Linked DNA regions of Homo sapiens: region 1 is linked to region 2. Evidence: fine-mapped expression QTL. A gene starts in region 2. The other region holds a variant in brackets. All regions are shown on one strand. Distances are between the middles of the regions.

Region 1 (5,366 bases), 35 kb before region 2:
GCCTCCTGCCAATGCTTATGGGCCCGGATCTCCTCCCAGGTGACCATCTTGGTGCTGCAGGGCCGGCTGGATGAGGCCCGACAGATGCTCTCCAAGGAAGCCGATGCCAGCCCCGCCTCTGCAGGCATATGCCGAATCATGGGGGACCTGATGAGGACAATGCCCATTCTTAGTGTACGTGGGGGTAGCTTTGCTCTGCTGGGTCACAGGAGATGCGTGATTCACTAAATATAAAGGGTGTGGATGGGATGACGTCTCATGGCTGGTCTCTCCCTTAGCCCGGGAACACCCAGACACTGACAGAGCTGGAGCTGAAGTGGCAGCACTGGCACGAGGAATGTGAGCGGTACCTCCAGGACAGCACATTCGCCACCAGCCCTCACCTGGAGTCTCTCTTGAAGGTCTGGGAAGCAGTTCAGATTGCATCCATGTTGGCTTCCTATGGGGGCTGTGGCATCCAGTGCAGCAGTGGCAGGAGCTTGGTCCTCCTTGGATAGGGCTGTCTGTCGCTCTGCCGTGATGGCGAGAGCTTTCAGACTAGTTGAAATCCGGTGCCCTTAGCTGAGAGCAGGAGCATTATGGAGAAGGTACCCCTGAGAGGAGGACAGAGTTCAGCACAAATGTCTCTCCTCAGATTATGCTGGGAGACGAAGCTGCCTTGTTAGAGCAGAAGGAACTTCTGAGTAATTGGTATCATTTCCTAGTGACTCGGCTCTTGTACTCCAATCCCACAGTAAAACCCATTGATCTGCACTACTATGCCCAGGTGAGTGAGCTCGGGGTGGGCAAGGGTGGGGGTAGGAGTCCTGGGGGCGCCCTGATGGGTCATTCTCTTTGAATTCCTCCCTGAGGAACAGGAAGACCCTTTCCTTTGGCCCTTAGTGAAAGAACAAGGCACCTTCTCTGGGGTTCGTTATACAGCAGCCCTGCCTGCCCCGAGTCTCTGCTTCCGTCCTCAGGATTGAGTGTCTCATCACCTTTCCACAGTCCAGCCTGGACCTGTTTCTGGGAGGTGAGAGCAGCCCAGAACCCCTGGACAACATCTTGTTGGCAGCCTTTGAGTTTGACATCCATCAAGTAATCAAAGAGTGCAGGTAGGATCTCTCCCACCCCCCACTGTAACCATTTTTAGGTGTACAAATATCACCACCTTGCGTTTCTAGAGTGGCCTGTTCCTTCCTTACCCTTCTTCCCTCAGACCTGCTATCTTAGTCCATCTCACGCTGATATTACAGAATACCTGAGACCAGATAATTTATAAAGAAAAAGATTATTTTCTCACCGTTCTGGAGGCTAGGAAGTCCAGGATCAGGGCACTGGCAATGTTGCTGGTGAGGGCTGCTCTCTGCTTCCAACATGGCACCTTGAACACTGTGTTCTCATGTGGTGGAAGGGCAAGAAGGACAAACTCCCTTCATCAAGTCGCTTTATAAGGGCACCCAATCACATTCATGAGGGAGGATGTGGCCTAATCACCTCCTGGCCTAATCACCTCTTAGAGGCCCTACCTCTTAATACTATCACATTGGCAAAACTGGGGTTTTAGAGGGGATCCCTTCAAACCATAGCATCTGCTCCCCTGCTTGACTTGCCACAGGTAGATAATGGCTTTTCTCTGGGTGAGCTTAGGGACTTCCTGGAGGCTTGAGGGCTACCATATACATAACTGTTTCCATTTCAGGGATGTTCATTTAAAATAACATCGCGGGAAACTACTTTGACATTTAAAATCTAGAAAAAGCCAGCAAGCCTGTTTCTTGGCACCTAATGGACACCTTATGGGATGGCGTGTTCCAAGAGTCTCACTCCAGTGACGTGAGCTACCGAACCACTGGGCTTCAGGCTGGGTATTATTCAGAATTTCCAGCCCTCTATCCAAAAGAGGGTGTTCTATGATTGCACTGAATCTTTAGCAAGGCAGGAAAGGGAGTGCCAAACATAATCAATCAAAGGTAAACCTTTCCAGAACTCTCCATATATGGTAAGTCAGAAAGAAGGTCCCCTTCCTTGTTGTGCACCCTGGATGGTGGGCATTGCACTGAAGACGTGCTGGGAAGGGAGGAAGTGGGTAATGGCAGAAGATGGCCTTGATCAGGTGTCAGATTCACTGACCTCAACTGGCTGTTTGTAGATCTGGGCATGGGAAGAGTTTCCTTCGCCCTACCTGCTTTTCTTGTTTTGGCCAAAAGAATGCCAGGGCTTCAAGAAAATGATACTAGATTTGGGGAATGAAAAACAAGTTTTTTGTGTGTTTGTTTCTGGGTTTTTTTT[T/G]TTTTTTTTTTTTTTTTTGAGACAGAGTTTTGCTCTTGTCACCCAGACTGGAGTGCAGTGGCGTGATCTTGGCTCACTGCAACCTCCACCTACTGGGTTCCAGCAATTCTACTGCCTCAGTCTCCCAAGTAGCTGGGATTACAGGTGTCCGTCACCACGCCCAGCAAATTTTTGTGTTTTTCAATAGAGACAGGGTTTCACCATGTTGCCTAGGCAGGCTGGTCTGGAACTCCTGACCTCAGGTCATCTGCCCATCTCGGCCTCCCAAAGTGCTGGGATTACAGGCGTGAGCCACCGCGCCCTGCCAAGTTTTTTTTTTTTGAAACAGGGTCTCACTTTGTCACCCGGGCTGGAGTGCAGTGGAGTGATCTCAGCTCACTGCAGCCTTGACCTCCTGGGTTCAAGTGATCCTCTTGCCTCAGCCTTCCAGGTAGCTAGGACTACAAGTGTGCGCCACCATGCCTGGCTAATTATTATTTTTTTTTTTGGAGAGATGAGGTTTCACTATGTTGCCCAAGCTGTTCTTGAACTTGTGAGCTCAAGCGATCTGCCTGTCTTGGCCTCCCACAGTGCTAGGATTACAGGCGTAAGCCACCATGCCCGGCCTGAAAGTCAAGTTTTGTGTCAATATTTTCACAGGCCTGTAAACATTGTGAGAAGTCCCTGCATGGAAGAATTAGTGAGAATAACTTAAAAACACACAAACACACCATCGTTTGGCTTTGTTGGTGTCTCTGCCCATAGTTGAGTATTCTAAATTTCCTGTGTTATAACAGTGAGTGAGTTTCACCAGGGCTTCCTAATTTATAAGCCCTGTATCTGGATTTTTAGGAATAAAACAGATTTGAGCAGAAGAAGTCTGTTGGATGCAGGGAGTATAAAAGGGGAAAGCATCCTGCTGTTTCCAGTGGCAGAAGAGAAAGAGAAGTACCATGAAGAGGGGTGAACAACATCACTCTCGTGCCGGACACAGACAAGGAATGATTAGGCTTGCAGTCCCCCAGTCTCAGCCTCTCTCCACTCTCACAAGCAGGAAGGGATCTGAGCTCTGTTAGTGGGAAATCTTGGAGTTTGCATTTCTCTGATCACGAGGCTACCTCCTATCCTGTTTTGAAAGAGGAACAGAAAAGCAGAGCTTGTCCCAGGAATTGTGAAATGGGCTGCAATGTCTTCAGAGGCAGTAGCAGTTTTAGGAAGTGTGCCCTCCTGGCTCTGGGGAAAGGTTGAATTGGGGTCTTGTGGGCACTTGTTTTCTCATGGGATGTATCAGTCAGACCCATGCACAGTTCTGGGCGGCAGGGAAGTGTGTCTCTTTCTGGACTTGAGCCAGTGAGCTGTTGGCATGCCTTTTTAAAGGCATTAGAAAAAAGGTTTCTTTCTTTTTTTTCCTTTCCTGTTCACACCACCTTCATATGAACATGGAGAAGGGAGGTTTCTAAGTGGGCCCCTGATTTACTCCTATGTCAATAATCGTGCCAGACCCTAAGGGGCAGAAAAGGCAGCCAGGGGATCCTGACTCAGAGGCTGTAGTTCGTCAGCCCTGCTAAAGGGCCAGGGGTTTGTCTCTCAGTGCCTGGGTGGGCATGCTTGACTGCTAACCCCTTAGCTGAAAGGAGATGGCAGGAGTCCTCCACAGGGTCCCTTCTTCCCTCCTGGCTTACAGCTTCCTCTGAAGACGGGCCAGTTCCTTGCTGTCTGGCAAGAGGAAACAGCTGGGGTGCACTTCACTGGGAGTTGGGCAAGATGTCGGCAGTTTCCTGGTGCCCTTCAAGTCCTCCAAAAGTATCGAGCTAAAAGGTGACAAGTCTTCCTTCAATAACCAAGAAGAGTTCCAGCTTAATGTCTGCTGAATCTAGAATCTTCTGACTTGTATTTTGGCCCAGCCCACAATCTTGGATGCAGGGTGCAGCAGTGTTTACAAACCTCACACCCCATTTCCAGAATAGCAGGTAGAGGCACTGGAGCTTTGATTACTCCAGAGCCCCCAACAAGCAAGATGGGGCCTGGGTAAGGAGTTGACAGTGACCTTAGTACAGGACAAACAGCTCATTTGGGGCTACAGTTGCTTAGAGGGGTCACCTTCACCGTAGCTGGTCTTCCCAACTCCGCAGCGTTCTCTCGTTTTCAGCAGAGGGCTACTTTGGAGCTGATAATTAGGCCTTTCTTGCCTTGAATGTTAAGGATGCCCACCTGCTCTGTGTCTCGGCTGCTCACTCAGAATCCTTCAGAGTGAGAGAGAGACAGAGTGAGAGTGGGAGTGTGTGCGTGTGTGATCTAAGACCTAACTGTGTGGTTCAGGCCTGCTGGGCCCTGTAGAGAGACCGTGGTGGCTTTGTGCAGCACTATGTCTGGTCTCCGTCACTTGAGTTGTGTTGTTAGTTCTCTGCTCTCAGTGCTTGCTGCCTTCCAGCCTTGGAGGCTGCTGGATCCTTTGGGAAGACACCGGGCACTGTCTCAGCCCTTCCTTCCAGTTGTTGGTGGCTTTCGTGCAGGCTAAGGCTTTGGCTCCCTTAGCCTGGGTCCCCTATAGCCTTTTCACTGGCTTCTCCAATGGTTTCGACATAACCATCAGCTAGAAATCTGGGTAGCAACAGCTGTTTTGGGAAGCTGAGGTGTCCTTTCCCCTGGCCCAGCCCACTCCCTCCCATTTTTTTCCCCAGCTTTATTGAGGTGTGATTAACAAAGTAGTATGTATTTAAGGTGTACAAAATTTTTTTTTTTTTTTTGGAGACAGAGTCTTGCCCTGTCACTCAGGCTGGAGTGCAGTGGCACGATCTCAGCTCACTGCAGCCTCTGCCTCCTGGGCTCAAGCGATCTTCTGCCTCAGCCTTCCGAGTAGCTGGGACCACAGGCACACGCCACCACGCCCAGCTAACTTTTGTATTTTTGGTGGAGATGGGGTTTTGCCATTTTGGCCAGGCTGGTCTTGAACTCCTGAGCTCAAGTGATCCACCCGCCTCGGCCTTTCAGTGTTGGGATTACAGGAATGAGCCACTGCACCCGGCCAAGGTGTACAACATGTTTTTTGTTTTTTTTTTTTTTTGAGATGGAGTCTCACTTTGTCGCCCAGGCCGGAGTACAATGGCGCGATCTCG
Region 2 (5,335 bases):
TCAACTGGTACAGTTCACATTAAGTCGTAACAACTGTGAAGCTTATGTCTCTACAGATACCATGTGACTCCCCCCCACCAAGTGTGTCCCTCTCATTTCATAATGTGACTCTAGGCTGGGTGCGGTAGCTCACGTGTGTAATCCCAGCGCTTTGTAAGGGAAAGGTGGGAGGATCACTTGAACTCGAGTTTGAGACCATCCTGGGCAACACAGCAAGACCTCATCTCTACTAAAAATCAAAAGAATTAGCCAAGCATGGTGGCGTGTGCCTATAGTCCCAGCTACTCAGGAGGCTGAGGTAGAAGACTTATTTGAGCACAGGGGTTCAAGGCTGCAGTGAGCTATGATCGCACCCCTGCACTCCAGCCTAGACAACAGCGCGCGAGACTCTGTCTCAAAAACAAGTAACAAAAACAAAATGTAACTCTAAATGTAGCCTATTAAACTCAGCTTAGGTCATTTAAATTATTCAATACCCATATTAATACCTTCAAAGCAAACTAATTCCACTCTGGTTATAGCAAGTTGGGCATTTCTGGGCAAGTGGTTTGACTGGAGTCAGGATGTCCTCTTTTTGTGAAATTATGGCAGTAGTGCCTGCTTTGCTAGAATACTTGGTAAACTAATTTAATGAATATCTGTAAAGTACTTTGAGCTCCTTGGAGAACACTTCCATATATAAAGAAGCCTTATGACCTGCCTGCAACTGCAGATTTTGCAAACGTGATCTTACTTTTTCTCTCTTTTGGGATATGCTCCCCTTTAAACTGAAGCTCAACCTCCTGAAGGGGGTTTCTTACTAGGAAAAATCAGACAATTTGAGGAAATAGCTATCACCTCCAAGATCCCGGAAGCAGTACTAAATAAGAGACCTCAGAACAAGGCAATACTAGGTATCTCACCTATCCCATTACCAGTCCAATTTCTCTCTCCACTTAAAGGAGGCTTCCAGGTCTAGCCTACAGGAAAGTTCACTTATTAACCCTCAGGCAGAGTACTACCTGCTAACCAGGTTAACACACATTTCCTTCGTAGCACTGTAATTCACAGTGCAATGACAGCAATACGCTTCTATAACTACAGCTTCAGACTGTGCTCCTCAGCCTTACTCAGAATAGGCTATCAACACTGACTCGTTAGGATATTCAAGGGGGTATATGTATGTGTGTGGGGGGGGAATTCCCGACACCGATTTCACCATGCTTCTGTGGTCACTGCAGGAAAAAGGTAGAGCTCTCTGTTCTCTATCATCGCTCTCTTTGGAATATTATTCTCACTTCAAGCATTCTGCCTGAGCGAAGCCGTCACTTCTCCAACACATGGTCACAATTCTGAAGCTGCCAGGCGACTGAACGCAGTCGGCAGCACCCACCACTACCGGAGACTCAGCCCCAATCCGAAGCTTCTCCCTTAGTCAGGGATTGGGGCGCTGGGTTCCTGGTGTCACCGCCGGGCGGCGACCCCACCACAATCTCCCCAAAGCGCCGAAGCATGTCAGCCCGAAGATCTTGGCTGTCGCCTTTCCCCGAGCCTGCGGTGCCCGACAGGAGCCCGAGTTCACGCCGCCGCGCGCCAGAGCAAGAGGACGCGCCGCAGCGAGGGAAGCGGGGGCCGGACTGGGGCCCGGCGCCCTGATAGGGAAGGGGCGTGATCGCAGGCTGCTCGCGGCGAGGGCGAGACCGGGCGTGGGCTGCCAAGAGGCGACGCCGTGGAGCCCGGGGAGGGGACGTGGGGGTGAAGACAGGGGCAGCCCAGCGGCTCGAGGGCAGGCAGAAACGGCCGCGGCTACTCACTGAGCCAGGACTCCAGGCTTTCCCCTTCCGCCTCCGCCATATTGCAGCCGCCCGGCCCCGCGGCTTCAAAACTCGCGAGAGTCTGCACGAGCTGAGACGGGGCGGGGCCTGCATGGGGTCCTGAGAGGAGTGAGTGCCGTCACCGAGGGCCGCGCCAGACTGCGACGGATACAGGGAGGGCAAGGGTTTCCTTTTGGCGCTCCCCTTTGGACCCCGGAGTGAAAAACTCTAACGTCCAGATCAGTGGAGAGAAACGCAGATTTAGGACCCTGAGGAGTCTTTTTCACCCGTTTCCCGTCACTCGCTCAGGCGCGCCGAGGGCAGTCCTTGTGGGGTCCTCGTGGCCAGCCAAGATGGCTGCCCCCGCAGTGAAGGTTGCCCGAGGATGGTCGGGCCTGGCGTTGGGCGTGCGGCGGGCTGTCTTGCAGCTTCCAGGGTGAGAGGGTGGCGAGCAGCGGCGGGGGGGCGCTGCGAGGAAGGAAGGGGGCCACAGGCAGGCCGCGTGGGCCCCTAGAGAGAGCATTGCCCTGGGGGCCGGAGTATCTGGATTCAAGCTTCTAAGTTAGCTGCGTGACCCTGCGCCAATCCGAAGGTTTAGTGACTACCTCTCGCCTAAGGAGTCTGGCTGATCTAGGGTTCTAACGCGGAGCTGAAAGTGCGGTTCAGCTAAAGAGCTCAGATCTGGGATCGCCTGTGAATTGGGATGGGTGTGTAGGCGCCAAGCCCATCCTTACCGTTAGCACTTGACCAGGAGGAGACTTTACCCGCCTGCTTGGGGAATGTCCTCCTACTTGGGACAAGGGCCTGAATTGTTGTGGCTCAGGTTTAGCTCGCGGTCTCCGCGCCGCTCCCCCTCGTCGGCGCGTTGGCAGTCATGCCTATTGTTAAGTCAAACCTACTCGCTTGTGGAGTCAGCTTTTGCCTGCCTCCTCCTTTCCCCCCCTCCCAGGCTAACTCAGGTGAGATGGAGCCGCTATAGTCCTGAATTCAAGGATCCCTTGATTGACAAGGAATATTATCGCAAGCCAGTGGAGGAGCTAACTGAGGAGGAGAAATATGTTCGGGAGCTCAAGAAGACTCAGCTCATCAAAGCTGCTCCAGCAGGGAAAACAAGTTCTGTGTTTGAAGACCCAGTCATCAGGTTAGATGGAAACAAACACTTGTTACATGGACTGGGACTATCCCAGGGAGGGTTTCTGGTGAGGATTCTGTGATACAGCCTTGGAGAGCTAAACGTGTTGCTTTTCTCTTTGAAGTAAATTCACCAACATGATGATGATAGGAGGAAACAAAGTACTGGCCAGATCCCTCATGATTCAGGTAAACAGCACTTCCCTCCTCAGTCATCTTTCTTGCCCCCCTACCCCGTAGCCTTGTACTTGGTACTTTCAGTGTAGCTTAAGAGCAAATGGATTCATGTATCTATTATTCAGATTAACTTCCCTGCATGTGTACGGGCTTTAATGAAGCCCTGTAAGAGTCAGCAACTGCCATTCCTTGGTGTTTCGGAAGTAAACACACAATTAAAAAAAAAGGAACAAATAAAAAATAAAACAACTGCCATTCCCCACCTCACCCCCCACCCCCTCCATGCCACAAATCTCAATCCACTCTTTCTGTCCTAGTCTAGCAAAGGGGGAGGCACTTAAAAACTTTGTTTTGGATGTGCTGTGAGAGGAGCTGCATTGCCAGCGCAGAACCAGAGGATGGGAGTAAAGGGCAAGGTACTAGCTTGGCTGGGTAAACCCTTTAGGGAGCCTGGGGCAGCCTCTTCCACCATATTCTTTTGCAGACTCTGGAAGCTGTGAAAAGGAAGCAGTTTGAGAAGTACCATGCCGCTTCTGCAGAGGAACAGGCAACCATCGAACGCAACCCCTACACCATCTTCCATCAAGCACTGAAAAACTGTGAGCCTATGATTGGGCTGGTACCCATCCTCAAGGGAGGCCGTTTCTACCAGGTGAATGAATGGCCAGGGCAAGAAAGCAGGGCCCTCCACATGTGAAACAAGATAGGTGGTGCTTGGGAGTTGGGTCAAGATTGATAGCTTTCTAGCTGGTGCAGTGGGATTGCACCTGTAATCTCAGCACTTTGGGAGCCTAATGCAGGATAGCTTGAGCTCAGGAGTTAAGAGACAGCAGGGCAACATAGGGAGATCCCGTCTCTACAAAAAAAACAAAAAAATTAGCCAGGTGTGGTGGTGTGCATCTGTGCTCCCAACTACTCAGGAGGCTGAGGTAGGAGGATCACTTGAGTCCAGGAGGTCAAGGCTGCAGTGAGTTATGATTACGCCCCTGCATTCCAGCCTGGGCAAGAGAGAGAAACCTTGTCTCAGAAAAAAAAAAAAAAAAAACGGCTGGGCACGGTGGCTCACACCTGTAATCCCAGCACTTTGGGAGGCCGAGGTGGATGGATTACCTGAGGTGGGGAGTTCGAGATCAACAAGGAGAAACCCTGTTTCTACTAACAATACAAAATTAGCCAGGTGTGGTGGCACATACCAGTAGTCCCAGCTACTTGGGAGGCTGAAGCAGGAGAATCGCTTGAACCCAGGATGCAGAGGTTGCAGTGAGCCGAGAGCACACCACCGCACTCCAGCCTGGCAACAGAGCAAGACGCCATCTCAAAAAAAAAAAAAAAAAAAGAATTGAGACTGTTACGGTCCACTCATCTGAGTCCTGTAGCGTAAAAATTATAGGCAGAAGGTGGAAGAGAGTGAAGAAGTATCTAAGTGACATCTGGGAGCCCACCTCCCTTCGCCTTCTTCTGTCAAGCATCCTGTGTGTCCTAACCTGTAAAATTCTCATGGCGAGGGACTATTCATATCCTGTCTTTGTATGCCAGTGTTTGGCATAGTGCTTGACCGATAACTGATGCTTCATCAGTGTTTGCTGAACAGTACTAGGTATCTCTTTCATAGCATTTAATTATATTTTATTGTCCTGAGTTTTCTTGTGTTCTCCTTTTTCAATATCAACTCCATGGGGTAGGGACTTCATTATTGTCTGCACTCTCGTGTCTGGCATGGTACTGACGCATAGTGAGGGCCTGACAAATGATTTTTGGACACGGGGTCTTGTTTTTGGTTTTCTTTAACTGTTTGTATAGGGTCTTTTTGTTTTTAACTTTTTTTTTTTTTTTTGAGATGGAGTTTCGCTTTTGTTGCCCAGACTGGAGTGCAGTGCTGTAATCTCAGCTCTCGGCTCACTGCAGCCTCCGCCTCCCGGGTTCAAGAGATTCTCCTGTCTCAGTCCCTGCCCACCCCAAGTAGCTGGGATTACAGGTGGCCGCCACCATGCCCAGCTAATTTTTTTGTATTTTTAGTAGAGACAGGGTTTTGCTGTGTCTGAAGACTGAAGGGGTCTTGTTTTTAGGTACCTATGGTCTGAGGTGGATTAGTCACCCCAGCTAATGGGGCTTTTCCTATTTGGTTCTTATAACAACTTGGTAGGACTACCATTTAGGAGGGAAAATGGCCAGTGCTTTTCTTCTTTTTCTTTTTCTTTTTTTTTGAGACGAAGTCTCGCTCTGTTGCCCAGGCT

Alleles and levels. Positions count from the first base shown, and alleles are read on the strand shown. Sizes are in standard deviations (SD) of each study's normalised expression.
With allele G in place of T in region 1, the expression in memory regulatory T cells of the gene that starts at base 2,125 in region 2 is higher (large effect, 1.1 SD a copy in Schmiedel 2018).

Evidence for each region. PIP is the estimated chance that this variant, and not a neighbour inherited with it, causes the effect. A credible set is the group of variants that fine-mapping cannot tell apart.
Region 1: its variant is the best candidate, but not a certain one, in a credible set for the expression of MRPS7 in memory regulatory T cells (Schmiedel 2018, PIP 0.74).

Annotation. Positions count from the first base shown.
Region 1 is chr17:75,225,064-75,230,429 of GRCh38, forward strand. NUP85 (nucleoporin 85) reads left to right here. Exons shown (of 19, transcript NM_024844.5): 8 at 40-174; 9 at 279-401; 10 at 635-766; 11 at 988-1,094. Among named protein-coding and RNA genes, the nearest start is that of NUP85, 22 kb to the left of the region's middle. RefSeq lists enhancers at 1-128, 392-1,591. The variant T/G (reference allele first, on the strand shown) is at 2,272.
Region 2 is chr17:75,259,755-75,265,089 of GRCh38, forward strand. MRPS7 (mitochondrial ribosomal protein S7) reads left to right here and starts at 2,125. Exons shown (of 5, transcript NM_015971.4): 1 at 2,125-2,229; 2 at 2,743-2,934; 3 at 3,050-3,113; 4 at 3,586-3,753. The coding sequence starts at 2,147. GGA3 (golgi associated, gamma adaptin ear containing, ARF binding protein 3) reads right to left here and starts at 1,852. Exons shown (of 17, transcript NM_138619.4): 1 at 1,794-1,852. The coding sequence starts at 1,833. RefSeq lists enhancers at 1,258-1,357, 1,828-2,237, 2,034-2,911.